3 separate regions of the Homo sapiens genome follow, and regions 1 and 2 are each linked to region 3. The links come from fine-mapping of genetic effects on gene expression. A gene starts in region 3. Each other region holds a variant in brackets. All regions are shown on one strand. Distances are from middle to middle.

Region 1 (10,524 bases), 170 kb before region 3:
ACTGTATATGTAAGTGTTTAAAGAAGAGAAAGAGACTTTTTAGAAGAGAAAGAAAAAATTAGAAAAAAAAGAGGAAAGAGAAAAAAAGCAAAATGCACAGGTACAGAAATTGAATACAAGTATAAGAAGGTTTCCTTTATAAATAAAGGAGTGTTTACCTCCTGAGTTTAATCAGGTTGCCTCCTATGCACTTCCGCCAATCATGTGCAGTGAGCAAGCCTGCGTTCGGGCAGGCCAGTCTCCCCTTCCTGTGCACTTTCTCCATTTTCCGTATAATCTCTTCCACTTTGCAATGTTGAAGTTTAGCACTTTCTGTCATCAAAGCCAGCTCATGAAGACAACGTATTTTCAGTGGTTTTTACATTTAATGTGAATTTATGTCAAACTAGTGGCTCCCTCAGGGGTGTTGTGGCATTTGTCACAAAATTAACAATAAATGGTAGTATCTATTATGTAATGTGTTCAAATTCTGTGCAATGATTCACATGTGTTATCTCCCTTAATTTGCACCACCATCTCACCAAGTAAGTGCTATTTTAAACGTCTCTTTCTTACAGATGGGGAAAGCTAGAGTGCTTAAGTAACCTGCTTAAATTCAGATAACAAAAATCTGCAATAAGGAGTCTAGGAGGGTGTCAGAGGGTGTAGGCTTCAGTCTTGACTGTGCTTCTTCAATATTTGACCTGAGCTGGTCAATGATTCTAGCTTCACCTCTGCTAAATTAGGACAATAATACCAGTGCTCTCAATCTTATCCAAGGAAGGATCTGCACCACTAATGCCAGATGCCATAAGAACTGCATATTTTACCTTCTCTTCATCTGAGGTTGGAAACAGTCACCCTGAAAACACAATCTGAAGCATGGGCAGCAGGAGAGAGTGGTCTGATTTGTTTAAAGACTGTCCCCATTTTGCAGGCTATCAGGCCAAACAACTGCCCACCCTACCAGATCTGCTGCAGGCAGGAGGCAAATGACCCTTATGCCCAGGGATGACAATGCAGGGATATAACCAACAGATGGAGACATCAGAAAGTCTCAGAGTGCATAGAAGACAGACGACGCTCCAGAAGATGTATGAAGCAGCAAAGAGTGAAAATTAGACTAGCTTTTTCTTTAAAAGCTGATTATATTAGTTAGAATTAGGAAAAGATAAATGAGACCCAATTCTACAGTAATTTATAGAATATGTTATACATAATGCAGTGACAAAGGGAAAGAATGTTGGAAAGAGATTGAATTAATTTTGAATCTGGGTTTTACCCTTACCCTGTGACCCTGAAAAATTATCTGACCTCTCTGAGTTTCAGCTTCATCATGTTGTATAATGAAGATAGTACCTTTTACAGACATTGGGAGGATTAAATATGATGATATAGGATGTTCTATGTTCTTGTTATTTGAGGATAGTCAATAACAGAGAAATCATTTAACAATTAAGGTACTTTAAATGGATACTAAAATTTCATAGTACATAATGATAGAAGGGTTTGATTAAGATTCTAAGCTGTCATAAACTAAAGTTGTGAAAGGATATTTTATTAACAAAGTTTAAGCTACATTAATAATTGAGTTCTTGGAATGAATAAAAATAGTTTGTGTTGATATTTTTGGGAAGGGTATATTTTTCTGATAAAATTATGTTAATAGCTTTACACACCACCCAAGATTTAGGTTTGGCTTTGATTCAAGATCATAAATGGAGCCATTATTGCAGAATTAATTGAGAGTTTTATACATTATTCCGAGGGTCTCTTAGTTTCTTGTCTTTCTTTTGAAGTGGCTCTGATGTAAGCTTATGTTTTTCCCTCTTCTTTAGTAATTAATAATTTTAATTTCTGTTAAATTCTAAACTGACAATGACTTTAGGTGTGATGAAAAGCTTTACATCATCAGTTTCACTGACTTCATGGAATCCTATATCCTTCCTAAGACTGGCAATTTCACTTGCAATAAATATGCACTGTATTTGCATGGTATATCCATTGTTTATATGACCAGATGTTTATGGGAAAATTTATTGGGTTCTGCATTCATGTAATGGGTGGGGATGGACACTAGTGTTAATTTGGGAAAAAGTGTATCAGAATGAGGACTAAGGTTATAAGTAAATACTTTCATGTTGCTGTGGTCTCTGCTTGTCTTCAGAATCCAGTAACTGCAAGGTGACCAATAGTGAACACTGGGACAAAGAGTTTCATTAGTTTATGTAAATTACAGTACCTGACACACAGTAAAAACTCGATAACTTGGCAGCCATTATCATTAGCAGTGAAGAAGAATTTGCCTTACAGTCGTGTCATGTAACATACAGTTTCAGGCTCTCCTCAGCACCAGATGCATTTAGTAAATGAGGAAATAATAAAAAGAAATGTAGAAATTCTTTCTATATAGTTCAGTAGAAAGAACTGTATCATGAGAGCTTAACTTGAAAAGGTAAGTGTGCTCCTGTGACATTGTGAATCTTAGCTGAAGTGATGATTAATAAAGTTACTTTTTATGATAGCAAAAACTTTTCAAAAATGTTTAGAATAGGTTTGGGAGAAAAGAAGTCAAAATAAAGTTACTACATATAAATTTTTAATTTTTTCCCTTTTCTCTAAATCTTGGAATATTATGATTGTAGTTGGCTTAGATTATATAAAATATTATATAAAATATATCTTATATGTGTGTAAATTGTGTGTGTGCATGCTGCATATAAAAATGTATCTCTATGTAATGTTTTCTTGAGTGTTTTGATAGTCTTATACTATCACCTAATCTAATTAATAATAATGCTACGATGAGAACTAAAAGAACATATACTTTCTGAATTCTGGGGACTGTGCTAAGTGTTCCACATGCATTCCCTTATTAAATCCTCACACTTTTAAGAAAGATGTATTGTTATCCCCATTTTACAGCTGACAAACTGAAGCTTAAAAAAGTCAAGAAGCTTCTGTTAAGTGCTGCCTTGGCTTCTCCTGTCCTGAGGTAAGTAGCACCAATTGACCTGCTGAGTGAGAATACAGAGGAAAAAGGGCAAACCTCAAAAGGGGAGGAACAATATTATTGAGTACTTGCTATGAGCTAGGTACTGTCTTTTATGCTTTACACATAATGCATCATTTAATTATGACTACAACCATGTGTCCAGATAGGCATTACTACATATTATAGATCAAGAAACTGAGTCTGAGAGGAGAGAACCGTTTACCCATGTTTTTGCAGCCAGTAAATGGTGGAGTCAGAATTCAAATCTAGATTCACTTGACTCCACACTTTTCCATATAAGAGCCCCATAGGCCTCGTCCTTACCCATGGTAGCACTGGGTGAGTTATCCTTGCTACATGCTTTTCAGAGTGCTACATGTTCTCCTTCATGAAAATGAGGAAAGTGTACTTAAGAAAGTCAGTTCTCCAATGAGAACACATGGACACAGGCAGGGGAACATCACACACTGGGGCCTGTCGGGGGTGGGGGGCTGGGGGAGGGATAACATTACAAGAAATACCTAATGTAGATGATGGGTTGATGGGTACAGCAAACCACCATGGCACATGTATACCTATGTAACAAACATGCACGTTCTGCGCATGTATCCCAGAACTCTGCGCATGTATCCCAGAACTTAAAGTATAACAGTAAAGAAAACAAAACAAACAAAAACAAACAGAAAAAAAAATTCGAATGATTGATAAACATGCATGGATGCCCAAAATAAATACATAAATAAATAAGAAAGTCAGTTCTCATAGCGTAGAACTGAGAGTACTGGATTTCTGAGTATGTAAA[T/C]AGGATTAGAGTTATTTCCAGTCTTCCTCTTCATAAGTCTCTGCTCACTTGCCCTGGTTATATATGTATGTCATGTGCATATATATTTTTTTTGCTTTTCAAATTCTGCTCAGTCCAGGAACATACAATCAATTGACATTTTTCTTCATGTTTTGTAGAGAATTTTTCTTCAACCTGGGTCTTTGCCTAGAGCACCTAAACTGTCATCCAAAATTAATGCCCAATTGAATTAACTTCCTAAAATGTTTGACTCAGAAGATGAGAATATTATACTTGCTTTTTATTATCCAAGTCAGAACACATGTATTCAACAAAAATACTATTGTTAAATATGAACATAAGACAGAAGACAAAGTCATAATACAAATGAAAGAAAAGTGAATGTACACTTGCTCAAATTGATTTCCTCAGTCTAAAAACTTAGGATTTTCTTTGTCTTAGTATGAAGACTCATACAGCCAAATTTTAAACACTTTCACATAGACAGTGGTGAGAGTTTGATCAAGCATTGGAAACAGGCAGCTATAGCATGGCACTATGAAGAATATGAATAAATATATCAAAAGCTAATTTATGTAAAGCACTTGTATACGATGGCCGCTGTGCTAAACACATTACATGCCTCATGTCTTCTAATCTCAAAACATCTCTCTGAGGTACACTCTTTTAAATTAAACCTTAGTGAAATTAAATAACTTGCTCAAGGTAATTTGCTCTATAGTAAGTAGGGGAGCTGGGACTGAAAACCAGGTCTAACTTCCATTGTATTCTTAAACCCTACCCTGTGTTAAAGATGTTTGCCCCTACATCCTAGGAAGTTGTGATCCGAGATCTAGCTGCAGGCATGGCATGCATTCTCAAAGCAGAAGTATCACCCCAAAGGGGATAAAAATTGGTTCTTTGGGGAAGGTGAAAGAAATCTTACTTGTTAAATATATAAAGCACACAAATATACATATAGCACATGACCAGATGTACAGTACCTCTATGATATTAGAATTCGACTTGGGGAGCAATTAGGGAAAAACAAGGTCTAACAGAGGCTCTCTGGGCAAGGAAAGAGGGATAATGAAAAAAAAGTTTGAGAAGCACTAATCTACAGGCTTAAAAGGGCCAAAGATGTGAATGCCCCTGGACAACTCATCAACTCTCTTGGAAAATTAACAGTCATCTACCAGACTATGCAACTGCTGGTGGGAGAAACTGTCACATTCTTTGGAATCTAAGATACAGAATTTTGAAAGATGAAACAAGTAGGTTATGACTGACATGCATCCTAAAGGAACACTCAGGTGCTATAACTGTATCTGTCAAAAATTTCTTGTTGACTTTCAAGGAAATTATTTACTTTGCAATAATTTATAAGTAAATTCTGGAAAGCTAATGCAGATAAAATTCTGGAATTTTTGATGTGTCACAAAATTAAACTATCAATGCAAAGAGTATAAAGAGGTCAAGGTTATAAATATGTGGTATAGAAAAATCATCATGCCACTATGATATTAATTGTAACTGCTGATGGCCAGAAGTGATTCAGATGTGTCTGCAGATTCTGAATATGAAATAGATTTAGGCTCAGTTTCTGATGGTTATACTGAAGATAGTGGCCAGCACTTTGTCTATTATTATTGGTTAGAAAAAAAAATGCTTTTCTACACTTGACAAAGTTTATTTCGTGCCCAAAAAGTTGTGAAAACAATGGAGCATAACCCAGTGTATGGCTTCTTGGGATCAAGTAAATGCAGCACACATATTTGTGTGTGTATGTGTGCCCATGCGTGTGTGTGTAGATACATGCAGACAGGGTTTCATCAAGAATTTTCACCAAAACATCAAAAATGTTATTTCTACTACTCTCTGAATAGTGTGATTTTGGGGTGATATTTACTCTTTTATTTATACTTTCCCATATTTGAATTTTTAAAAGTAATAATATGCTTAAATTAATGTCATGATCACAATAAAGCCAACTGTGAGCTATTTGTAAATACTTTGAAGTGTCAAAGGGAATATTAGCGTATGTTAAAATAAAAGGATGCATAATTATACACTGTGTGATAATATAAACTATACATGCACACACGCAGACTCACATTCACATGCAAAATCTCAGAACTGAAAAACATCAAAATGATAATAGTGGTCATCTACAGCTATTTGATTATAGATCTTTTTAAAAATACCTTTCTGTTTTTCCAAGTTTTCTATAATGTGTATGTGTTACTTTCATACTGAGGAAAAAATATAAGTACATATTGATAATTACTTTGGAATTTTAAATATTGAGATTTCTACATTTTTCCTTTTTCTTTTTTCTTTTGTCATCTTTACATTTATTTATTAAAGAGAAAAGATAATATTTAGATTAAAATATCAACTGTCATAAATATTTATTAAAATATTTATAATTTATATTATATATAAATGTGTATCTCTATATAAATTATATCATATATATTTATTTTATATATAACTATTTTATATTATAAATATATAAATATATTTTATAGTATAAATATTTATTTATATTTTACATATTATATAATATATAGTTTATATTTTATGTATAATATAAAATATATTCAAAATTAAAAATATTTGATGAAAATGTGAGATAAAGGTAATAAAGATGAGTGACCAAATTAAAATAAATGGTTTGATAGCAAGAAGCAAATTATAACAAAAACATTTCAGATTTTACCAAAAACAGTAATTCATTAAAAAGAAATAAATTGTGAACCAAAGTAATGAAGAAGTTTTTTTGTTTTGTTTTGTTTTTGTTTTAATATAACTGGAATTCAGAAACATTTTGTTATTTATTTATTTATTTTTAAATTTTACTCTAAGTTCCGGGATACATGTACAGAATGTGTAGGTTTGTTACATAGGTAAACATGTGCCATGGTGGTTTGCTGCACCCGTCAACCCGTCACCCAGTTTTTAAGCCCCACATGCATTAGGTATTTGTTCTAATGCTCTCCCTCTCCTTGCCTCCCAACTCCCGACAGGCCCCAGTGTGTGTTGTTCCCCTCCCTGTGTCCATGTGTTCTCATTGTTCAACTCCTACTTATGAGTGAGAACCCATAAGTGTTCTTTCCTTGAATGGTTTATTTCTTTTCTTGAAGTGTTTATTTCTTGAATGGTTCCTTGCAGTTACAAATTGGATGCTGGTAATTTTGAGCACTACTGAAAGTTATTCTCCCAATGGGACTGATAAATATGATTGGAGAAGTAGGAAGAATGCAGTCTGCCATTGTTTGCCTGCCTGAAAGCCTGCTATTTGAGCTGCTAGTTTCATAGCAAATGGGCTGTGTGTAAAGTCCAAAAAAAGGCAAAAACCTAAGGAAAGGAGTAACTGACATTAAATAACTCATGCTTCCTCTCCCTAGATTCATTTGCCACAGTGATGATTGCAACTTTTCCGAAACATCCTTGAACAATTAATATTACCCTTGGGACACTTCTCCAGAAAAACCTCTTATGTTTTCTCAGGGCATATTTCAATTCTCTGAATCAGATCTTAGGGGAAGTCATGCTGTTATTACTCTGAATAGAAGACTAAGAAACACAGTTGTAAACACACACAGCACACGCTGCCTGTGTGAATATGCGTCAGCAAGAAAAGAAGCCCCAAGGCCATATTTACTTGTGTCCTGGTGACTTGGTACGGCAAAGTCAGCAGAAGAGAACACAAAGTCCATGAAATTTTTTTGTCTGCTGACAGTCCACGCTGTAGCAGAAATGATTACACACACAGTGCAGAATAGTTGAAGACATAAAAAGGTTCAAATCTTAAGGACAGTGACTTATGTTAATGCCTTATGTTAATGTCTCTCAGCCAATCTTTGATTTAATAAATGAAGCAATTAATATAAAATTCTTAGCACATGTCTAGCACATATTAAATATTCATTAATACTAACTATTATCTTAGGAAATGATTACTTTTGAATAGTACTTTATAGTTTGCAAAAGCCTTTCACAAGTAATTGTCTAAAATTTGTTTGGAGTATATGTGGTGCTGATTAAATATATCCACAGCAGACACATAAAAAGGATTATAAGTGGGAGATTCTCCTGAGTCTTAATAAAATCTCTTTGAATCACTAGTATACTTTCTTCATTCATTTATGTCAGAGGTTAATAAGAACAGTATTTTGAAATAGGGTAGGCAGCCAAAGTCTGTGGACAGCTCTTCTCAAAAGACATAATAGAAACAAACGCTATAGAGGTCATCAGCCAGCGATTGCATGTTGAAGGCTCAGAACCATCCAAAGATGAAGCAGTTTCCCCCTGGAATTCTCAGCTTCTCCATTCTTTTCTCAGGAAGTTTGAAATTATATGTCAAATTGGCAGAAATGCTATGATTTACAAATCCTTTAATAAAAGAGAGGATAAAAGATTTTCTGCCACATCTCCCATCAGTGTTGACACAGAACCCCCAGGAGTACACTGGCAGGCAGACCATTAGTCTCAACAAGTCAGCTTTAATAATGGGCTCTGGTAGAGGCAAAGGGTGTACAGCAACGCAGTGGCATGATGCTTCCAAATCATTGTCTTGCTCCGTACCAGCAGAGAAAACACTGCTTATCATCCCTGCTGACAAGGAAGGGAGACCATGTAGCAACTCTCAGCAGAATCAAATTGTCAGATTTTTATGTGGAAGAAGACAAGAATGCCACAACTGAAACTTCTCCAAAGCAGGCAAGAACTAAGTAAAACACAGCCATGTTACAAGCAGAGGATGCATGAAGTTGGACAACAGTTGCTTATATTTGAGTGCTTTGCATGCACTATACTAAGTGTTTGACTTTAATCTTGACCACAGCCCTGTGAAAGAGCTGCCATTATTATTCCAGTTTTCAGAGGAGGAAACTAAGTCTTAGGTTAGGTAACCTGCCTAAAGTCACACATTGTGCTGAGGTTATAACTAAGATCTAGAAGGCTTATTCCAGAGCTCATGCATAAACGCATACACACACACACACACACACACAGAGTTCTTTTTCTCTTTATATATGTGATATGAAATATCTATGATATGCCATATATCATTCATATTCCATATTTCATATATATCATATACAAAAACATTATATATCATATATGAAAACCTATGATATATATCATACTGTAGGTTATGATCATATATAATATATATGATATAGATCATATATAAATGTGATATAGCTGATATACAATATATAGTATGTATGCTATATCAGTATGTCAACATATCACACATATGATATAGAATATATGTGTGATACATATCATATCATATATATGATATATATATTCCATATCTTTTTCTCTATTATCTCTATATGTGTGTGTGTGTGTGTGTGCATATGTATGTATATGTGTACTGAGAGCAAATGGATATGCATTAATTGAGGAATCTTTCTAATACTAGGATAATACCAAGCATACCTTAGGTTAACATTTACATATCACCTAAGATTTTCTATTAGACTCTAACATAGCAACATGTTATATTGCTTCAGGGTAGAGTCTATGTAGGTATAAATGTTGCTCCCGTTTCTTCCATCACCCTACTAGAACATTTTTGCAATTCTACCATTGCCTTTGCTACAGGATGCTTTGCATAGGAAGTGCCGAACTCTTCTCTTTCTTCTATTCTTCTATTTCTTGTGAATTACTGGAAGGCAGGAGTTTTATTATTTCACCTCCATAATTCCAGCACAAGGGCTTGTAGCTAGAAGAGCTCATGGACTGGTTGTGAAGCACTGAATGCAAAAATAAATGAGTGAATATTCTTTAACTTTTCTATTCTGTTACTCATTTTCCTGCTCCAGGGAACTATTTAACTTATGCTTCAGGTTTTAAAATTGTCCACGCATAGCAACCCTTCTTTTTGTGGGGCTCAAGACTTTCCGCTGTTCTTGTTAGTTCCCCATTTGGTTACTCCAGTCAGATGAGAAGTCCTGTTCTAGAATCTACTTTTGCACCCAGGGAAGTGCAGCTGACACTCAGGGTTCCATTCCTCTCTGGGGAGTGAAAGGCTTCAATCTTGAGCAAAGCAAATGTTGCCCAATGTTTATCTATTTTAAACCTATTGGCCTTTGTATGACAGACATATTCAGAAACAACTGTGTGTTTTGGACCATTATGGCCATAAGAGGAAGAAACTACATTATCAGTGAGTCTGATAGAGATACAAGAAGCTTCTAAGTATAGTCACCACCAGACACCCAAGAGGCCACTTTAGAGACCAGGAAGTTACCAGAAATGAGAAACAAATGCATCTTGGATGCAATACCTTCTTGGTCTCTTCCTTTCATTCTTCTTTAATTTGAATGCAACTTCAAAGCATGGATAATTTAAAACCTTTCATATGTATAGTACTTTATTAAACAAAAACAATGCATCTTATCAATTTTCCTAATTATCCTGCCAGGTGGGTATTATGCTTTCCATTTTAAAAATGATAGAACAGAGACCCAGAGACATTAAATGCTCAAGATCACGTGGTTATTGAGTGGCACAACCAAGACTTGAGTAGCATAGTGGTTAGGAACATCAGTTTTGTGACATAATAGTAACTCCCTTTCAACGTATTTAACCATTGACTAGCTGTGTTATCAATAACTCCCCTCTAACTGATTTAACCACCAACTAGCTGTGTAATCTCAGAAAAGTTACCTAAATGCTCAGAGCCTTTGTTTACTCATCTGTAAAATGTGATTAACAATAGTACCCACTTCCTAGGACTGTTGTGTGAATG
Region 2 (10,524 bases), 120 kb before region 3:
TGCTCCAATGCGGCTTATTGCTGTTACTTATCAGGAGTTCTGAGGTGTGGACATTTAGTAACTGTTGGTGTTGAGAAGAGGCATGGATGAAAAAATATCAGAAAATACCTGGTTATGATATGTGCTGTCATTTGTCATTCCTCTTTGGAAACTCATTTTGATTCTCCCTGTGCTGTGTTTAAAAAATAATGAAATAAAGATGGGCTTCAAATAGGTTACAAAGTGGAAAGGAGTTTCAGTTGGGCAAAACACACTGAGGCCAGTCCATCTGCCCTCTGTCTCTGTTGCCCACATTGGGACAGGCAGCTTGGCTGGCAGGCACAGCTCTGCACCTCTTCTGTGCTGGCTGCTATTTCAAGCTACAGCTCCAAGGTCCATGGGCAGTTAGAGGCTGTCCTTTAGACAGACATAAGTCAGAAGGAAATATCACCTTCATTCTGTTTAGAAAGGACATTCTCCCCAGTCTTTGAGGAAAAATTTTTTGACATAATTAATATGAGTGATTCACACTGTAAGATTTTTTTTTCTAAAACAATAAAAAGTACATTTACTGCTGTAGACTGCTGCCACTAAAACAAAATCTCCTTCAGAGGGCAAAGGGATAGATTTTTTTTTTCTTATACTGTTATGCTTATTTATACTATTATTCACATATTTGTAGAAACTCCTTAGTAAAAAAATAAGTATAATTGTACAAGAAAGATAATCATTGATAAAGTGACCCTCAAGGTTGAAGACAACTAAATGACTGAAAACCTCAGGCTTTAGATGAGAAAACAATCTCACTGGATGTGCACTAGGACCCACAGAAAAGAACACATTAACAAACTTTTTTAAAGAACCTACACATTGTAGAGGAAGAAACAGGAAATTATTGATCTTATTGTTCACCCATCAAGTAGTGAAAAAAGAAACTTGGTTAAGTTGAAGAGGAAAAGATCAAAGCAACTGAGACCATAAATTTGCTCTATTTGTAAAATAATGCAAGTAATGTAAGTTGCATTATAGCAGAGCTAGATACGGCATACATTTTATATAATGTCCCGTGGTGCATCCATCCACCCAGACAATCAACAATTATTTTCTAAGTACCTACTATGTGTCATTCACTGCTGTGGGCCCTAGAGAAAATGCCTCCTTAGAGAAAAAGTAGACAACCTACAAGCTCTGGGTGCAAGATTTGTTGTTAGAAACCCAACATTCAGTAAACTGTTCACAAAGTAGGCTTCTGTAAAAAACTTACTTTCAAAATTGGTTGCTTCTTTACAGAGCACATTCTACCCTGACTATGGCCCTTAGCTAATCAAAATAGTTTTAAATTCTAAATGCTACTAACATTTAACATCAAGGCAGACCTTAAAGGTATAAAAGTTAGCGTTTTTTGATTGCAATTAACATTATAATAAAAAACATGTAATTCAATAATTTGCTACTTCTACTGAGGCCATCCTAACATTTTATACAATGTGTCAATATTGTGAGTACACAGCCTTATTCAATGAAATTTTGATTTTGTTACAGAAATTGAGTGTTTGTGATCTCCAACCATGGTGATCATGTTTCCAGAACCCTCAAATCAGGTCAGCTTGCCCAGACAGTATAAAATGATGTAGGAATTGTGTTTATGCAAGAAAAATCTAACCCTTACATTTCAGGAAGAGAGCAAAATACCATCTACTGAGAAGGTACAACCAACATTAATTGGAGAAATCATGACAAAGGCACTCCAGGTTGAATACTAAATATTCATACAGCTCAGGGATTTCTTTTTACCAGAGTAAGGTGGGCATGAAAGGTGTGGATTTTAAATGTCAGGAAATGGAAGCAACAGAAAATTTCCTAGGGAAAAAAAAATCAGTAATGAAGGAAAGAAAAAGCATGTATCAGATACAAAACTAATTTTCTGCACACAGTCCATGGTTTATTAAAATGTTGAGAAGAAAAAAATATATTTTGAAAAAGAAAATTTCCACCTATTTTCCCATCTATCCTCTATGAGTCCTGGGAAAAACAAAAGTTGCGTCTCATGTGTTAACTCTAGCTGATTTTTGTCCAGCTGCCTGCAGGTCTGTCTAGAGGGGGCTGGCTTCTAAGCCCATGTCTGGGATTTAGTGGCAATGTCTGTGGAAGATTTGGGGATGGAGTGGCAGTTTATATGCCCCATGTTTGATATCCCTGGTATAGACCAATACAAATCACATTTGCCCTACGAAGCTTTCCTTGATGAGTAGAACTCAAGCTGAACCTCTGCCTTCTAATTTACTAAATAAGAGGTCTGGGCTGAGTGCCTTGCATCAGAATGCATGCAATCTTTAGCCTCTCCTTGCACTGTGCACTGCTTCTACCAGGAGAGAATGCTGGTGTGTAGGAGACTGGAGCTCACCTCCTCCACTGATGACTCTTTGTTTTCACTGAACTCAATGGGGTGCTGAACCTTCTGCTGAAGTGAGGACAGGAAAGGGGGTGGTGTTACCAAGCAGCGGCAAATTCATGAATTTTGCTCTCTGGCAGGCTAATTTGGGGGTGGAAGGGTGGGTGGGCCACATGGAACAGGCAAACAACACCAGACTGTCTCCAGTTCAAAGCTATTTCCCCCTCCTCATATTTTTTTGGTTAAAAAGTTATGCATTGCAAATCTCCAGGATGAAGATTAAACTAATTGTTCCTTCATGACTCAATGTCAGATTCTTTACTTCACTGTACCACTTACTTTCCAGAGGAAGGGAGAAGGCACTAGCCTACACGCCAGGGTAGGTCAGCTCCTGCTCTCACATCATTTCTCTCAGCCCTTGTGAGTTTGCTCAAGTCCTCCCTCGCTATTTTTATTTTCCTTCTGCCTCCTACAAGTCTCTGAACTTAAGGAAAAGGAAAGCAAAGCTGAGAAGGTGATTGATATTTAATGGCACCTTTTCTGGGAGACAGCACTGAACTGGGTATTTTACAATATTTTCTCATGTCATAAGAAGGTAGACACAATTTTTTTCCCATTTTACAGCCATGAGATCTGAAGCTCCGAGTTGAGGAACTCGCCTATGACCACACAGATAATAAGATATATACTCAAAAGCCTGTGTTCATTCTATTTATCCTTGTCTCTTGATCTTTCTGTGCTGGTTTCTCCGTAAAATAGGGGCATCACTACCTCCCAGATTGCTTAATAGTGCTGCTACTCATTTCATCCTTTTGATCATGACTGGGCATTTATAAAACATAGCATTATTATAATATGCCATTGACATAAAAAGTGCTTGCCAATTGATTAACTGATTAGGGGAACTGAAATAAATGAGCCATATAAAATGGACATCATTCCTTAACATTTAAAACAAAAGTGCAAACAATCTGCATATATAATAAGATAATTTTAATAAATGAGAAATCACATATCACACAACAGCATTTAAGCCTGACCTGGCAAGGTGTCAACTCAGCCTCGCTCTCCTGTCATGTGGTACAATATAGGAAGTGCTGTACCATAGAAGACTGGATGGTCTTCTATGGGTGGATGTGGATGAACTCAGTGGGGAGAAAGTCTGTGAGGTGGGCCCTTTGGGCTGGGATTATGGGCCCTTTGAGCATCCATCGATATCCTTCAAAGAGTTTATTTCATGTGAGCATTCAGAAATTGTATGTAAAATATTTTGAATGAGCTAGTGAACTTTTTTTTCTAGAAAGAGAGTCAATGGCTTTCATCAAAACTAGTGTAATATAGTGGTTAAGAGTTCTCAATTAGAAACAGAACTTTCTGAGTTTAAATCCCAGCAACTTCAGTTACTAGCTGTGATGCTTCGAGTGAGATAATAAATCCCTCAATGTCTCAACTTTCTCATCTGTAAAGTGGGGATATCAATAGTACTGATCTCACAGGTTGTTGGGAGCATGAATGAATTAATGTATGTGACACACAGCACTCGTGTTCACAGCTGCCACTACCAAATTCATCACCATGATAAGTTCTCAAAGTCATCAATGAGCTTAAAGGATGACTTTGATATTTTATTGTTATCCTGATTAATAATAGCTATCATTTACTAAGCACCTCTTTTAGACCTTACATAAATTTACTTACAAAGTACTAAGCACCTTATATGCATTCCTTAATTCTTACAAATATCCTATGAAGTGGGCAGTATTATTAACCTTATTTTACACTCGATTAAGCCTTGACTGAGGCTTAAAGAGTTAAGCAATTTGCTCAGGGCTACATGGATAATAAACGGAAAGTCAGAATGCAAACTTAGTTCTGACTTACTCCAGAGCACAGTATCTTAATCAGTAAGGAACAAAATGCTTGTAGTTAAAAGACACCTTCTCAAGGTAAGCCAGAAGGGATTATTGGCTCTCTGAAAAACAAAAATAAAGGAATCCATGGGAGCACATTATAAAAGGAAAAGATCACATCAAAGATTAAACCATAGCATTTGTCTTCTCACTCCCACAAAAGCCATGGGAGCCACAGGTTTTAAGGTACCTGCTGAGCACAGCACATGGTGCAGATGTGTCAGACAGTGCTCCGTGTGGGATTTGGAAGGAATGGAGATGTCCGTATCTGAGACCCTAGGAAGGGTGAGCAAGCCAGGAGACCTAGAAATGGAGGCCAGGGGGAATGTGGGCTGCAGAAAACCAATCAGGAAACTGAAGTGAAGACAGGCAAGCGTTTGAACCACAAGAAAAATTTCAGCTTCTGGTTGCTACTAGATGTTGTTTTCTCAGACTGTTCAGTATTTCTGGTATTAGCTCTCAGTGCCTGCTACATGGAAGGTGCTCAACATATATTTTGTGAAATGATTTGAAGGGGGAGTTAGAAATAAAGTCAATTATCCATGATGCACAATGAAGTGTGCCATTGTGAATGTTAGCCTTCAATAAGTCTCCCGAAGAAGTACCATATGTATTCAGGGGATGTTGATGGTACTCAAAACAATTTAGGGATACTTCCTTCTGGAATTGTCTTCAAAAGGCATCACAAAAAACACCTTTTCCCAGTTTGATGCTTTGGGTAATTAATGGGTAATTAATTACTGGTCTTGGCTCTAAATTACTTTTGGAAATTTGAGTTATTTATCACTATTAATGATATTCTTTAAAATGTGCCCTAGGCTCTATAGCAATGAGACAATCTTTACATGTAGCTTCTATTAGGAGTACTTTACATACATTAAATCATTCAACCCTCAAAATAGCCCAATGAAGTAGGTATGGGAGTCACCCCATTAATAGATGAAGAAACCAAGGCACTGGGTTTTCAACATACCAAAAGTCATCAACTAAAAGGAGGTAGAACCCTCTTGTTTGAGTAATTGGGACATCATTGGAGTAAGTGTCATTTCTTTTTCCCTCAAATTATCTTAAAGGGAATTGTATTCAATTCAATTCAATTGTATGTTGAATTCTGACTTTGGTTATTTTTTTTGTGTGTGTGCATGTGTGTGTGTGAAGTCATATTTCCTTATAATTAATTCCTGCACTGATTATTTTATTTAGCCTCCTTCAAAAATTATTTTACTCTTTAAGAACAAAGCCTTTTCTTGTATGATATAATGGAGGTTTGCTTCTACCCTAAATGTAAAGAGTGTGGTGTAAAGGCAAGCAAACCACAGAACTGTTCGTGTTGCATCTGTCTCTATCTCCTCCTTTAGGGAGAGTGGTCTTTACACTGCACTAGCAGAAAGAGATGACCATGGCAACAACCACCCTGTAAGGTAGCTGTTTGTTTGTCCCATTTCAGACAGAAAGAAACTGAGACTCTCACTGAGGTT[T/C]AAGTACCTTACCTAAGCAGTACTGCTAGCAAGAGGCTGAGGTCAGGGCTGGCACTTTTCCCACTGTACCTCAGTTCCTTCAGGGGGTATGTACAAAGTTTCTGTTTGTGTTTAAAGAGAAATCAACCATAATTGTCCAAGATGGAGAAAACTAACTTAAAAGTAGTTCCTCTAAAAGGCAGATCAGATTTGGCTCAGAATTAAAGTCTGAGACAGGCAAGAGAATTCCAAGCTGCTTTAACAGAATTCTAGCCTCGAGATGTAGATACATTTTAACCCAGGACATGAAAACACAGTATGCTGTTAGGTCAGAAGGCTGAACATGGGGAAGCAGAGCATGACCCTCAAAAAAGGAGAAGTGGTTTTTTTAAAAGAATCTAGGTTAAGTAATGAAGAAATGAACAATTGCAGAGTACCAATTACACATCATGTACTGTTATTAGGATCTTCTGCACAAAAAGTCCTTAAGGATTCTTATCATCCTTCCTTTACAGTGGCAGAAATGGAGGATCAGAACAGTTATGGGGCTTGTCTAAGGTTACACAGGTAGAAAGTGGTCGACCTGGGCTGGGGCCCAGGACAATCTGAATCTATGTGATATGTGCCTTCTGTTACTACACACTGGCTTGTGATTAACCCAAAATTCTAGAACAAAATATTTAAACAGATAGCCAGAAAGCACTTGGAAAAGAAGGTGATAACCCTAGGTGCCAGCGCAAAGAAACAGGGCAAACTGAACCTATCACTCTCTCTGATAGGGTTTCTGGCCTGGTAGGTCTAGGCAATGCCATAGACACCCCAGGTCTCTCAAACGCAGTGTTGTTCTGGAAAAAAAGAATGAAAATATGTGCCCAGGATTAGGGCACAGTTAGGAGAATCATTGTGTGGTGAACAAAGGAGGCTGAAGGGTGTTATCAGTGGATGGTTGTAAAACTGGAGGGTGGTGACATGCCATGGTTCTGTGTCCTTAGCCTGGTTCCATTCATGTATTTGTTCACTCACTCACTCACTCACTTGCAAGCATTAATTGAATGGCAATGACACACTAGGCCTTATGTCAAGAACAGAGAATTTGGGATGGACACCAAAATGCACCATGCAGAATCTTCTTCAGAAGGTTTCCTTGCACCAGTTGCTGGGAGGGCTATTGGCAGCCTTCAACTGTCAGCACCTCAGGATCTGCCTCAACTGCAGAGAGCTACCTAACCCAAGGGCATGCCCCTTCCTAGTGTGGCCCACATCAGAGCACTGACTGGTTGAGCAGTATCAAGGTTATTCATCTTAGCCAAACTCACACTAACTCTGAAGGCTCCTACTAGTTCCTGAGTTTCCCTGGGATCAGCTCAGGCTGTTGTTCGTTGTGTAAAGCAGCTCAACTTCTCCCTCTGCCCACCCCACATCACAGGTATTAAGTCCAAGGTCACTCCTTAAAAAACATCTTGCACACTGAACTTGGAGTTGGAGTCATTCTGCTTCATTGAAAACTCACTGGTAAAAGAAGGGGCTTTACCATTTGTTCATCCTTTAAAGAGTACAACTACAATCAAGGACAAAATTACATATTTGGTTTAATAAAAGGAAGACTTTTCTTTCAGCAATGGAACAGCCTGCCTTAAAAAACAGTGAACCTGCATAAACAGAGGGACACTGGAGTGTCTCTGTTCAACCTGTTGTTAGCTAACAAGCAGCACGGTATCACTAGTATTTATAAATTAGTGATTAGAAAATTATTTTAGAACATTCTGGATTTAATAGGTACTGGGAATATTTTAAAACATATATGGGAAGAAATCCCGTTTCCTAATGAACTCTCTGAAATAATCTGAGATTACTTAATTCTAACCTTAAGATGCAGATACAATATAATTCAGGACCCAGTGGAAGAAACTGTCAAAGTCCACCAATAGCCATTTGTTCTTTTGTCTTTTAGTAATAAAACCCCGAATGTTAGCTGGCTACTACATGTTTATCTAGCAAAACACTACATTTTCCAGACTCCCTTGCAGTGAATGTGTCCATGTGATTAAATTGTGGCAGTGGGATCTGGGTGGTAGTGATGCGCGCAACTTCTGAGTTAAACTCTTAAAGAAAACCACTTGCTTTTTATTTATTCTTTCCTCCATCCCAAGGCTGGTGCATGGAAGTACTTGCAGTGGTAAGGCAGCAGTGCTACTCTAGGAAACGAGAAGCAATAATGCAGAAAATTCCTGGGTTTCTGAATGACCACTGGAGTAAGACTCTTTTACCTCTGGACTGTCTATCAGCTTTGACTTTCACTTGGGAGAGAAAGAAACCACCTATATTGTTTAAGCCATTATTATTTTGGTCTCTGTTAAAACAGCTTAACAAATATTCTAACTTACACAGATGCCAAATCAACCTGACCAGATGGCAAACCTGGGTGATGTTCATTCTTTGCCCTGTAAGCTTGGTATCTTATCAGCAGGCTGGAACATGATAAGAAAAAGAATTATTATCCTTTACCTGTGAGTTAACTCCTGCATTAGCCTTCTGCCTTTTTGGTGCTCTGCCTTGTCCTGGCCAACATTATATTTTATTTCTATATCAAAATCAAGGGCTAAGGCAAAATCTGGACTAAAATTTTGTTTATTTGTCTAACTGTACAATAGGATTGTTGCCAGCAATTAAAATCTTGATTTGTCTTGCTTCTGACACTTTGTCTTGAGAAGTAAATTTCAGATAAGTTTATATTGTATATACATATAATTATATGATTCATTCATTCCTCCCATTTCATTTCATTCGTTAATTTGACCGCCCAATATATATAGCGAAACTATTCAAGTATAATAAAACCAATTCATGATAAAAGAGATCAAATTGGTTATAGTTCATGGATACATATTAACAAATAAATGAAAAGAATAAGTGAGGCACGACTTTATCTTAAAAACTTCAAAAGAAACATAAATCAGAAGTCCAACGTAAACCATTGTTATGAATAATTTATTATTTGAAATTTCCTCATTTCTATTAATGTAATGATTGATGCTTTTGTAGTATAAAAACCATAGTTTAAATAAAATATTCTGATATATCATTAACTTGTGTAGACCCTATTTCCTTTTTAGTGCCTGAAGAAAGTATAGATGTATAATTGTCTGCTCTTTTGGCTGGAGACATGAAAGTCCAAAATCATTGTCATTTTGATCATGGCACCAGCTGGATTTTAGGTTATTTCTGCTTATCTGGCTCTGGAGAGGAAGTGCTGCATATGTCATTTATAAAATATATGTACATGGCTGGGTGCGGTGGCTCACACCTGTAATCCCAGCACTTTGGGAAGCTAAGGCGGACGAATCACCTGAGGTCAGCAATTCGAGACCAGCCTGGCCAATGTGGTGAAACACTGTCTCTACTGAAAATACCAAAAGTAGCCAGGCATGGTGGCACGTGCCTGTAATCCCAGCTACTTGGGAGGCTGAGGCAAGAGACTCACTTGAACCCGTGAGGTGGAGGTTGCAGTCAGCCGACATCATACCATTGCACTCCAGCCTGAGCAACGGAGCAAGACTCTGTCTAAACAACAACAACAACAAAACTATCTATATCTATATCTATCTATATTTACACACGGGTTATCAAGGAGAGGGCAAAGATTCTAAAGCCAAGAATATGTTTTCAGTTACAACCTCTCTTTAAACTCATGTACATCCAGAAACCTGCTCACCTTTTCCTAAAGTAGTAACAGCTCACTCTTCCACACCAACTATGAAAAATTATAAATATTTAGGAATCACAAAAATAGGAGATCCAGGTTCTCACATTACAGGGAACAAACTGGAGGTGTGGGTGCAGGAATGGGAGCTGAGGGTCCCTTGGTCTGTGGCGTTGTTGGTTTGCAGAAACAGAGTAACTCCGAGGTCACTCTCTCTGGGTGTCTCCATCTAGTTTTCACTCTGCTTCCCTTAACATTTTTTCATCAGAATCTTAACCACATCATGTCAATATATTTCCTTAAAAATAGATGTTGAGAAGAGCTTAGAGTAAACCACCACATTTTGCTGCATCCTTAGCAATGTATCTGGTTGGAGGAATAGCTACCAGAAAACTTAGGCATACATATTCCATTCAAAAGAGGGAATCTCTTCCTTCCTGGATTCAGCTACATTCCGGCAAACATCCACTATGTTTCTGGGACTGTGCCGGTACATTTGCTTTCACATAAATGTGTTCACTTAATCCTCTGAACTTGCCTTCTTTTACTTACCCCAGGTAGCTTCCAAAGGGCCAGTTTATTACACAGAGAACAAACTCAGAGAAGTGAATAAAATAAACTGCACAGACATGGCTGTAAACTGGTTTTAGACATTTAAGGAGATTTTCAGTAAAAAATATTATTCAGTAAGTGAAAAATAATTTGAAAGATGCCACTGAAAAGTGAAAGAGTGTGCTTTTAAAATACCACCATTACTAGAACTCACAGGCCAATATGTAACTTTAAAATCTGCACCTTCCATTATAGAAGGAAAAGAAAACTAATACATTTCATGCTTCCCTTTTCAAGAAGACATCTTAAAGTAGCAGGGGAGTATATGATTAAAAATCACCTTAAATATTATTTACTGTGGTTAGTTTCTCTTAGCAATCATTTTGGTTGTTACCAACAGTAGTGATCAAGTCCATTATAAGCATTAAACACTAAAGAAAGCGTCATTATAGACACTTTTCATCCCAGGGAGGCAAAAGTTTATTCTCAAAAGATGGATGATTACAATTCATTTAGAAAGGTTAGTTGAGATGT
Region 3 (10,524 bases):
TTTTTCTCCAGCTCTTCATTGTCCTCCAATTAAAGCTTCTTTCCTTCAAACAGCAACATCCAAAATTAAAAACACATTTAATGCCATAATTTTCTTCTATTTGATTACTATGGGAACCATACTGTTCTTTACACATTTTATGGCAAATATTTGCATGTTAGCTAGATATTGGGTTAATAGCCTTTGATGGACTTGTGTGAGACTCTATTATTTGTATCATTATTCCTATGGGAAAACATGTTCCAAGTAACCAGCTCACAAACAAACTTTCAGGAACATAAAAATTGTGAGTTGGTAACTTCCTGTACCTTGTTTATTTGAAACATGGATAGTGTATGTGCTACATCCAACAGAAAGAATGATCCAGAGTCTTCTAGTATGGTTTATCTAATTTAATTTTTTAAAGACTCCATATTCTTTTTAGAAGTATAAAGATGACCCCTGACATTTGGATGGGAACATATATATCTAAAGAGGTTCTTTATGATACAGAACACTGGAGAAGATGAGAAATTACACAGGTGATGGAACATATATTGGAATCTTCTATCTGCATGTTTAGATTTTCTAAAGTAATTTCATCATTTAAAGAAGAGAATCAGTAGGAAAATTAGAAGCATTCCCTTTAAAACTTCTTAACTAAATACAAAATGAACAGCTCCAGCTTCAAGATGTCTTGCTCTTTTCTGACCAAACCAAAGAATTTTCCAAATGTTATTTTAGTAAAACTCTGTTTCTAGATAGGAAAAGAAGAAGTTCTTAGTGTTTATAAGGTTTATTGCAACAACAGAAGTTTAGTTACTCTTCAATTATGCAAAATTTTTTAAATAATGATTTTGGACATAAAAGGCATTAATAAGAAGTTAAAGAGTATAGTTCTGTCAATATTCATATTTAAAACAGAGAGACACAGAATATGCAACCAAAGGCACTACAGCCTATTTTTCAATTAGGTTAACATGCCCAACCTGATGCAAAGCAAAACTAAGAGGTTCCTAGAGGGTCAAAAACATGAGCTTTGTGGTTAAATGGATGTAGGTTCAAATTTCACTCCACCATTTTTTTGCCTCAATGCATTATTTTTACTTTTGAAAGGTAGAAAAGGACTGAAAAAAGCACCGTATATACAATATACTTAGTTTCAGGTTATTATGAGTAGTAAATATAATAAAATATATTAAATTATCCTGAATATTGTAATTAAACCCAGTAAGCCCTTAAAAATATTTGCTTGTTAATTTTTTAAATTGTCATATAAAATGAAACCATTGGCACCCAGAAACTTATCTTTCTAGTATAGCACCTAAGAGCCTGAATATGGAACTAAAAACGCAAAACGCCTTCAGTTGGGCCTACGTGAACAAGGAAAGTACTTTCTAGACACCCTCACAAATAGACAGATAGCCCAAGAAACTCTGACTTAGTTCCAGTTATCTTAGAAAGGATAGCTAAAGAATGCCATTTTCAAACTTTAATAATAATATATCAAAAAATAGTCCTTGAATAGTTGCCCTAACCACATAGACTTCATTGTAAGCTTAGCCAATATGTACACTCCATAGTTAATAATTCCCTTTGCTCATCATCTTTCCTTTCATATTTATACTACAGAAGGCTCCAGATCATGTGGCTTTCTTTAGAAAAGAAACAACTCAATGCCAACCACTGCCAAAAGATAAAGTATGCAGGAAGCAGCAAATCAAGTCCCCTAAAATATGTTTTTTAATTAAAATATGTTAAAAGAACCATGGAGCCACAAACCACTAATCACCTGCTTGTGGTCCCTGGGGAATTATTTCGTTGACTTCCACAAAATTAGGATCACTGAGGAGGTAGTAACATTTATCATCTATGATTGGATGGATTTCCAATAGGCATTGAATGAATGGAGCCTATATCCTGTTCCACACAAACAAAACGTAGTTTACTATGACCCATTCTGCTGAATATTTGTTTACTCTTGCTTTACACAAAGTAGAGAAGTGCCTTTGAAAAGTTGCCATGGCCATGCTTTTTCTGAGCAGCAGACTAAAACACTTTAGCAATATAGAAATGTACAGCCACACGAGTGCAAATATATGTTTTCTTCCTTTCCAGAAATGTGTTTGGGTGGATGACTCTGTGTGTGTGTGAGACACACTAGTTCAGAAGAAATATGATTTTAACTAGATGTTTGGTAGCACATTCTCAGAGTCCACTAATGTTTCAACGAAGAGCTGCCATGACAAATTTGGGGTGCCTTTTATGAGGTTCCTTATCTTTCCAAGGTTATTGTGGTAGATGTACAGAGGCTGGCAATCTCTAGAGATGAGTTAAGTTGAAATAATAATTATATACCACACCTTCAGAATAAGAGCAATTCAGAGGTGAAATTCTGCCATGCAATACCAGAAACATGAATGTATATTGCCAAAAAGACTGTCAACTAAGTTGGAAGGCAACTGATAGCAAATTGATTTTTGGTTAAACTCCTATTTGCCTTTCTAAGGTCACCGAACTATTAAGATAATAAGGCTTAAAAACATTTAAGTAGGAGCTATGGGTAGAAATAAATGTTAATTTCATTTAGCTATTTAAGCCAGTGGGAACACCTGTCCAATTTCTCTTGCAAAAGATCTGGTGAAAGACAACTGTATCCATAGTATAATTCATACTAATTCATACCAGTGCTAAGATAACATTGTTCATTAGATAAATTTGGCAAACCCAGAGCAATAGTGCTAATTCAGCTCCAGCACAAGTCTTTGTTGCAGTTCTCATTTTGGTTTAGGCAGCCTGGATAAGCTTATCACAGAGCTTTGAACTGACATTCTTGGATGGCACAATAGACCATATTACCAGGAGAATCATTCATGAGCATCAAAAAACGTTACAACCTTCAAAGAAGATACTTTAGTGCCATGGTTTGCAAGGCAAGAAGTGAAAAGAAAGAGCATCCAATTCTCTATGCAACACTGAAATCTAATCAGAATGTGTGCAGATGCATTTTTAAGAAAGCTATATGAAGTTGAGCTGGAGAAATACAGTACCTCTACAGGCAAGATATTTTTTCTGAAGAAGATAATCCACATGAGCTTTTAATTGAAAAGTGCATAAATAACACTCTGTCTTGCCTTGTTATTCAAAGATTAAATCAATTTTGAATTAATGAAAATGATTTAATCTGAGAGTGTTAGCAATCTCAATTTATTTAGGCCTGGATTTAAAGGGCTAGCTTGAGAGCCTTTTGCAAACAAGACTCAGCTCCATAACAAAATCATACCCAACCTCTCTTTTAAGGCTATCTTCTAAAATCTGTGGGTTTTGACTCTAGAATTCTTCACTCCCCCAAATCACATTAACAATGTTTGACATGATGACAGGGAGAGCAAAAAGAATTCATTTCTGCCAAATAAGTACAGGCTACACTGCTGTTTTTATGAAACCTTCCTCCTCTTATTCCATTTTGGTAAATTTCTAAGGAATAGTTAAAATCCGTAGGACAAACCTTGGCTTAAGAGGTGGCCTCTCTGCCATTTTCATGGCTGATTTGAGACCCATTATGCACTCAATTCTGCATTGTGAAATCCAGGCTGGGGACAAATTTCTGCCTGTCATCTTAGGAAAGGCCAGGAGTTTTGCACCATCCTATAGTGTGAAAACAGAAAATCAAAGCCTGCATAGAGCTGCTTGCTTCTTTCCTGATCAGCTTGCTGCTTTTTGGAGACAATCTTGGCTGTCACAGTGTCAGACTGGGAAGGGTAATTTAGCAGAATAAAATATAGTTTAAATAGCATCTCTCCAGGGAAAGTTCCTCCTTACACTCAATATTGAATATGCGAAAAGATCATCAGCAAATAATCATTTGATACTTGGCTAAAATCCATTGGACAGGGAAAGCATTTAGGGAGCACAAAATTCTTTTTTAACCTGATAAGACCCCGAATCAGGAGGCAAGAGGCCCGGATATTTTCCTTATATTTTTCATTCTGTTGCAATGACATTCTCATACAACTACAGTTTATGGACCAAATTTGCTGCCCTCCCCATCCCAATAATATGATGTAAACTGCAGAGATAAAAATACCTTATGAGAATTTTTACAATTTTAAACAGTTCACTGAAAATGTCTGTATGGATAACTCTGTTAATGACCTCTCCTGTCTAATGTCAATTTCAGAAAACAAGTTTCCATTGTAAATGTTTAATCAGTGTAGTCCCAGGAACCCAGAACAGAAAACCTTATCTTCTCGCCCAACTTATTTGCTCTGCAAGCTCTTTCCTAGCTCCATCTCAGCTCCCTGCAAACACTTTAGGCTTTTCTCTCTCAAAGGAGCTGGGAGCTCTGTAGGTTCTGAGCTAGGCAGCAGCCCTGTGGTTTGATTCCATTAGTCTGAGCCCAGATCCACTGCAAGCAAACTGCAGCATTTCTGCTTGCAAAACATTGGCAACCAGGTTCTAGAACCGCCACATACACTGGCTGCACATATTCTTTAATGCTGTTCTGCCCAAACCTTGCCTGAAGCCAGTCAACCATAGCAGAAAGCATCCTACCTTCCATCATGGTGGCAGAATTGCATTCCTTAATTTCCAAGGAGTCTGAAAAAACACAGGAGGATACGATTCCAGGTCCCAGCTAAGTCCTCACCACGCCGCTGCTGAGGTCTATTCCGTCCGCTGTCAAAGCCAAAGGAGATAAGTGTTAAGCCAAAAGACAGGCCATGGATGCTGCTGGTGCTTCTTCACCTACAGGCAGGCTACCAAGAAGATGCTGAGAGAAAGGGAGAGGAACGGCAAGCTGGCCGAGCTGCACCGCCTGCGCTGCCTCGGCCAATCCCTTCAGCTTTGGACCGCGTCACATGGTAGCCAGCCTGCATCTCCTGACACAATACCCCCGGAGAGCACACAGAACCTATTTCCCGTCCCCATTCCCCTCCACCCCCATCGCCTCCCGCTTGTCACCAAATACACAGCCCCTTCCCCACCTGGTGACGCACTTCCCCCGCCCCTCCTCGTCGTCTCCTTAAGCTTACAGAAGCGGCTGGGTGCCCGAGATTAGTTATCAAGGGCTGCCACCTTAACAGGGGACTCTGGCGTGAAAGCAGCACCTAAGTGGCTCGCTGCGGAGGGGGTTCTTTTCTTTTTCTTTCTTTCTTTCTTTTTTTGTTTTTTTAAGAAAAACTTAATAATTCCGTGCAGCCGGAAATCTTAGCAACACACTTCTAAGCTCCCATTCCGGTGTCCTTTTACCCTGAAGGAATTCCAAATGTCAGTGTCTGTGGCCTCCGTGCACATCTGTGCGTCTCTCTCTCTCTCCGTCTCTCTTTCTCCCCTCCCATCCTTCATTCAAGAGAGAAAAATCAATCCGACTGACGTCACATCATAAACATCCCCAAAAGGATGATGCAGAAGAAATTTCACCCCAGCTGCCTTCGTGAGAGCCAGGGAATTAATTGCGCATGACATGCTGAAGGGCTGGGAACTGTCATTAAAACAAAGAAACAAAAGAACCCACCCGAGTGGGGCTCTGGAATCAAACTGGCAACGCTCGAGATCGTTTCTGGGGCGGGAGGCTGGAAAGGGGAGCAGGCAGGGAGCGGAAGCCTGAGCCCGACCAAAGACAGCTGTGCACGCCGGCTCCCTCCCACTCCAACCTGGGCTCGCCGTCCGGGCTACAGACGGGACCCTGCGGGGCGCCCTTCGACGACCGAGTTCGAGTCCCGCCGCCACCGCGTCCTCCCCGCCGAGCGCACACGGGAGCGGCCTCGCTTCCCCAGGTGGGGAGCTTTTCTCGCAACCGACTGGGGCTGCAGCTGCCAACTGCAGTCTCTGTAGGAAACAAACTTTCTCCTAAATGACACGTTTCTCCGCGACGCGCCTCCTGCATCTGGAGTCGCCTTCAAGCCTATTCATTCACCCAAGTGGAAACCTGGAGGGAGGCAGTTGTGCCTGGTTGTGGCGGAGCCCAGGGTTTTGAAGCTGCCAGGAATGGGATCTGGGGGCTGTGTAGTTGCCTAAGTGGGAAGTTGTGTCACTGGGCCCGGTTGGGTTCAGTCTGTCACCTGACTGCTCTCCAGAGACCATGGAGCCTTTCAGAAGGGCCCAGCCCTGGGGGATCTACGACCCTTGGTTCCCTTCAAGAAAGCTCAGACAGCGAAGGAAGAAAAGGGCAGGGCAGCCTATGAGAGAGAGAAGGCAGAGAAAAAGGAAAGGAGATGGGAGGAAAGGGAACGCCTTCTTTAGAACTCAGGAAAAACAACATCAGAAGTGGGCATTTCTCCCTGTATAATCTCACAGTATGACCAGGAGAAAAGCTGTTACAATAGAGAGCAATTGTGAGCATCCAATGAAAATGTACTCAAAATAACTGGAAGAAGATGCATGGTATGATCAGGGTTGAGCCTGTAATGTATTATTAATCATTTCTATTAGCAATATACTCATGAACTTTTTCTATTGCTCAGCCCTGGACATGGCCTAGCTCTTTCTACCAAAGCAAATATGACGTACTGGTGACTGACTGAAGTAGCATATTAATAGTTGAAAAGCAAAACACAGCTCCTTAGCAATTTAGAAGTTTTGAAAAACCCATTGTTCTCCCTAAGGACACATACTTCAGTGGCCTCTAAATTTTAAAATGAAATTCTTCAGGGAGATACAAATACTTGTGACTTTTTTCTTATGTCTCTAAGACAGTTAAATTTTAAAAGGGGAATGAATTCCTAAGTAAAACCTGCCTTGAGTACAACTTACACTGCTCTGAAAACTGGAGGGGTATTATTGCAAAAAGGATTGATTTGTGTGTGTGTGTGTGCATGTGTGTGTGTGTTTAGCAAATGTTTTGTAATGATTAAGAACATTGATGGGTATTCGTGTCAAATAGATGGGCACCAAGTTTTGTTTGTGCCACATAATGAGCTCTGTGACTCTGAGCAATTTATGTAATTCTCTGTGCCTCACAGTTTTCTTATCCTGAAATGGAGAGAATAATAATGCCAAGTTAATTGAGCTATAAATGGTAATAATAACAAACCTGTATTAATGGCTTACTATGTGCCAGACAGTATTCAAATACTCTGCTAGTAAATTACTTAGCATTTTGTCTGGAGCATAATAAGACCTGCATGTTAGCTTTTTAGTATTAGTATTATTACTACCAAAGGGCTGGCAGATGCATCAAAGAAGTTTGCAGCCAACTGGGAGTTGTACCAAATGCACAGAGAACAAGTTAGTGAAAGACCAGGTGATGCATCCAAAGATGTAACATGTTGGAGATTTCTGAAAGGCTGCTAAGTAGGAAATCAAAATCTAATGAGGTTAATTAGGAAAGACTTTTTTTTTTTTTTTACAGAGGTGAAATTTCAGAGTTCAGAACTTAATTGGAATGGGCTTGAAGTGGTAGTTCTAAAGAATATAGGGAGTTGTAAGTAAGAAAAAAGTATCATGTAAAATCTGGAGGTGAGTGCAAGCACTGAGGTGCAGGAGTGGGGGCCATTGTTAGGATGTAAGGGAAAGGTGGAGAAACCCAGGCTGCCTGCCTTCTTCCTCCCAATGTAAGTTTTACAGTGTGTTAGAGCAATCCTCTCAGATAGGTTTGGTATGGGTACACTTCAAGTTTTTTTAGACTTGCAGCAACTATCTAGAGACAGCAAGTCAATGGAAAGATTCTTTTGGTCAATGACTATTTATAGGAAAAGCAGAAGTTTGTAGATATTGTCAGAAAGGGATGTGTATTTCAAGGTGGTAAAGCTAATCCCAAAGGCTAAACTTCACCGCAACTTCATCAGTTGTGTGTATTTTATCCTTTAAAAAGAAGATGCTATTACCAATAGCATATCCAATAGAACATCCAATGAATGAAGTTCTGTTTCAATAAAATTTGCTCAAATATGTAATCAAAAGAGATTATCCTAATTGTGGTGTTTTCTCATAGGTTTTTTTCTTTTTATTTTCTTCTTCTTCTTTTTTTTTTTTTTTTTTTTTTTTTTTGAGACAGTCTCACTCTGTTGCCCAGGCTGTAGTGCAGTGGTGAGATCTTGGCTCATTACAGCCTCCACCTCCTGGGTTCAAGCTATTCTCCTGCCTCAGCCAACTGAGTAGCTGGGATTACAGTCATGCCCCACCATGTCCACCTGATTTTTTTTTTTTTTTTTTAGTAGAAAGGGGTTTCACCATGTTGGCCAGGCTGGTCTCGGTCTCCCGACCTCAAGTGATCCACTAGCCTCGGCCTCCCAAAGTGCTGGGATTACAGGTGTGGGTCACCATGCCTGGCCTCTCATAGGTTTTTGAAAAAAAAATTGTTTTGATCAAGAACAAAGACAATACTTTAGGTTGTGGTTCAAATTTTATCACTTCATCGTATAATTTTTGCTTGCCAGCAAGGGCAAAGGAGAATATCTAGCCTCCAAAACCATGGAATACTTTTTGCAATTCTGAAATGAAAGTCAAATGGTATATGGAAAAGATTGGGTAAATAACTGACTTGCATCAAAGTGCAAGAATTGCTCAGGAGTTCAGCTCAGGATGTGAATGTCAACCCAGATCATACCAGGCTCTGATATGGTACTTATGACTGGTCCAAGACCAAAAACTAAATTGCTGAAGTCACTAGACATTCAACATTTTTTCTAAAATAACATTTGTATGGTAGTAATGGCTGATTACATAGTGTTTCAGAATGAAATCTTATTATATTCCTACTATAAAAGCTGAGCTTCTTCACTATCTCCCAATTTTAGGTTGAAGGGGAAATTTGTTTATATTTTAGAAAGAGAAAGAAGACAATGAGAATTGAGTCACAAAGAAAGGAGGAAAGAAAATTAGCATTAAAATATGGATCCAGATTTGTGTATGTGTTTGTGTATCTCCAAGGTAGTGCTCTTAACATGACAATTGACTCTGCCCCTTTTGCTATCCCCACTGAGGTAATTCAGTGAATGTAGATGGAAAAATATGTTGCCCAAGTCCTGGAAATTGGCAAGACTGAAAAATTGGAATTCCATGAGATGATATAGATGAAAAAGAGATACATATATTTGTGTGTGTGTGGGTTCCCATAGTTACTCTATTCCTGGCTGAAATAAAAGAACTCCAACTTCAACTAACATGGGCAAAAATGGAATTTATTGAGGTAGCTCATAGAATTATAGCAAGAACTGAACAGCTGAGGGAAAGCAAGAACCAGGACAATCCAGGAAATTTTGTTACCTGAACCAAGTACTCAGAACTCTCTCTGTCTCTTCCAGCATGTCATCTCCTTTTCTCTTACTAATTTTTCTCCACATGATCAGGCCTGACCATTAGCATCCTCTAAGCTCACCTCTTCACAGATTTACTAGGCTAGATCTCCTTCAAAAAACTTCCAGGGAAGGACTGTGGTTGACCTGGCTTGGATCATTGTTCACTTTTCAAACCAGTCACTGGGGGCCATGTTGATGAGTTCTCATGATAGATTTTTTTTAAACCAAAACTTACATTGGACTGTCATATGCTGACTACTGTGCCTATGTATGTGTGTGTGTGTATATATATATATGTGTATATATATGTGTGTATATATATGTGTATATATATATGTGTATATATATATGTGTATATATATGTGTGTATATATGTGTGTATATATATGTGTATATATATGTGTGTGTGTGTGTGTGTGTATACTATATATATATACACACAAGTTTCTATGGCAAACAGAACCCATAATATGATTGTATCCAGAGAGAAACCAGCAGAACCTGTAGTCATGCTCCTGTTTCCCTGGGGGGAAGACTCTATGTGCTGGCCCACTTATGCCAAAGACAAGACATGCCCTTGTATGCTTTTCACCCATTGGACTATGAGCATCCCAAGAGCCATGTGTTCATAGCTACATGAGTGCTGAAGGAATTTATATCAGCTGGGAGTACTGCTTAATCTAGACCTACATTGATAAAGATAAGCAGTAACACTGAATCTATGAGAAAATTCAACAGTTTCAAAAGAGAAGGAAAATAACTACAGCTCACTGAAGCATAGGAAATGTCCCCACCGAGGCAGAGGAAATGTGGAGAACTTGAGAGGCATTTTTCAAAAAATCTGTTTTTTAGTTTTGATATAATTTCAGAGATACAGCAGCAATAAATAAGAGCAGATTGCTGTGATAAAAGAGCATACTGAGAGCCAGAAAGAGTGCATGGAAGTAATAAAAACATTCTCATTAAACATTTAAAAATGTTATAGCTATAAGCAGTGATATAATGGGTACTGCCAAGATTGAACATTGATAGCCCAGTGGCTATGTGCTTGAAGCATAAACCTACAACAACAGCAACTGTCCCAAGCATAGTGGAATTCTTTCTCTCTTTGGAGAATCAAATCACTCCGATGCAATTTTGACAGCTCAAGAAACTGGAAAAAGAGAAAAAGCTCCATAAAGCTTCAACTTATGAATTATAAAACATGACAAAAATAATTAAAAATAGAATATAGCTCAATCTTACTTATGAATATTGATACAAAAATTGAAATAAATGACAGCCAACATAATAGAGCTTTTCAAGA

Alleles and levels. Alleles are on the strand shown, and positions count from the first base shown. SD is a standard deviation of normalised expression in the study named. Not every link is listed here.
In carriers of allele C in region 2, the expression in visceral fat of the gene that starts at base 4,749 in region 3 tends to be higher than with T alone (small effect, 0.25 SD a copy in GTEx).

What was found. PIP is the estimated chance that this variant, and not a neighbour inherited with it, causes the effect.
Region 1: its variant is the best candidate, but not a certain one, in a credible set for the expression of SGIP1 in fibroblasts (GTEx, PIP 0.54).
Region 2: its variant is the best candidate, but not a certain one, in a credible set for the expression of SGIP1 in visceral fat (GTEx, PIP 0.63).

What each region holds. Positions count from the first base shown.
Region 1 is chr1:66,702,124-66,712,647 of GRCh38, reverse strand. The region is part of intron 18 of SGIP1 (SH3GL interacting endocytic adaptor 1); the gene reads right to left. Among named protein-coding and RNA genes, the nearest start is that of DYNLT5, 45 kb to the left of the region's middle. The variant T/C (reference allele first, on the strand shown) is at 3,777.
Region 2 is chr1:66,644,637-66,655,160 of GRCh38, reverse strand. The region is part of intron 7 of SGIP1 (SH3GL interacting endocytic adaptor 1); the gene reads right to left. Among named protein-coding and RNA genes, the nearest start is that of MIR3117, 21 kb to the right of the region's middle. RefSeq lists an enhancer at 5,857-6,026. The variant T/C (reference allele first, on the strand shown) is at 5,760.
Region 3 is chr1:66,528,378-66,538,901 of GRCh38, reverse strand. It overlaps SGIP1 (SH3GL interacting endocytic adaptor 1), which reads right to left and starts at 4,749. Exons shown (of 25, transcript NM_032291.4): 1 at 4,534-4,749. The coding sequence starts at 4,543.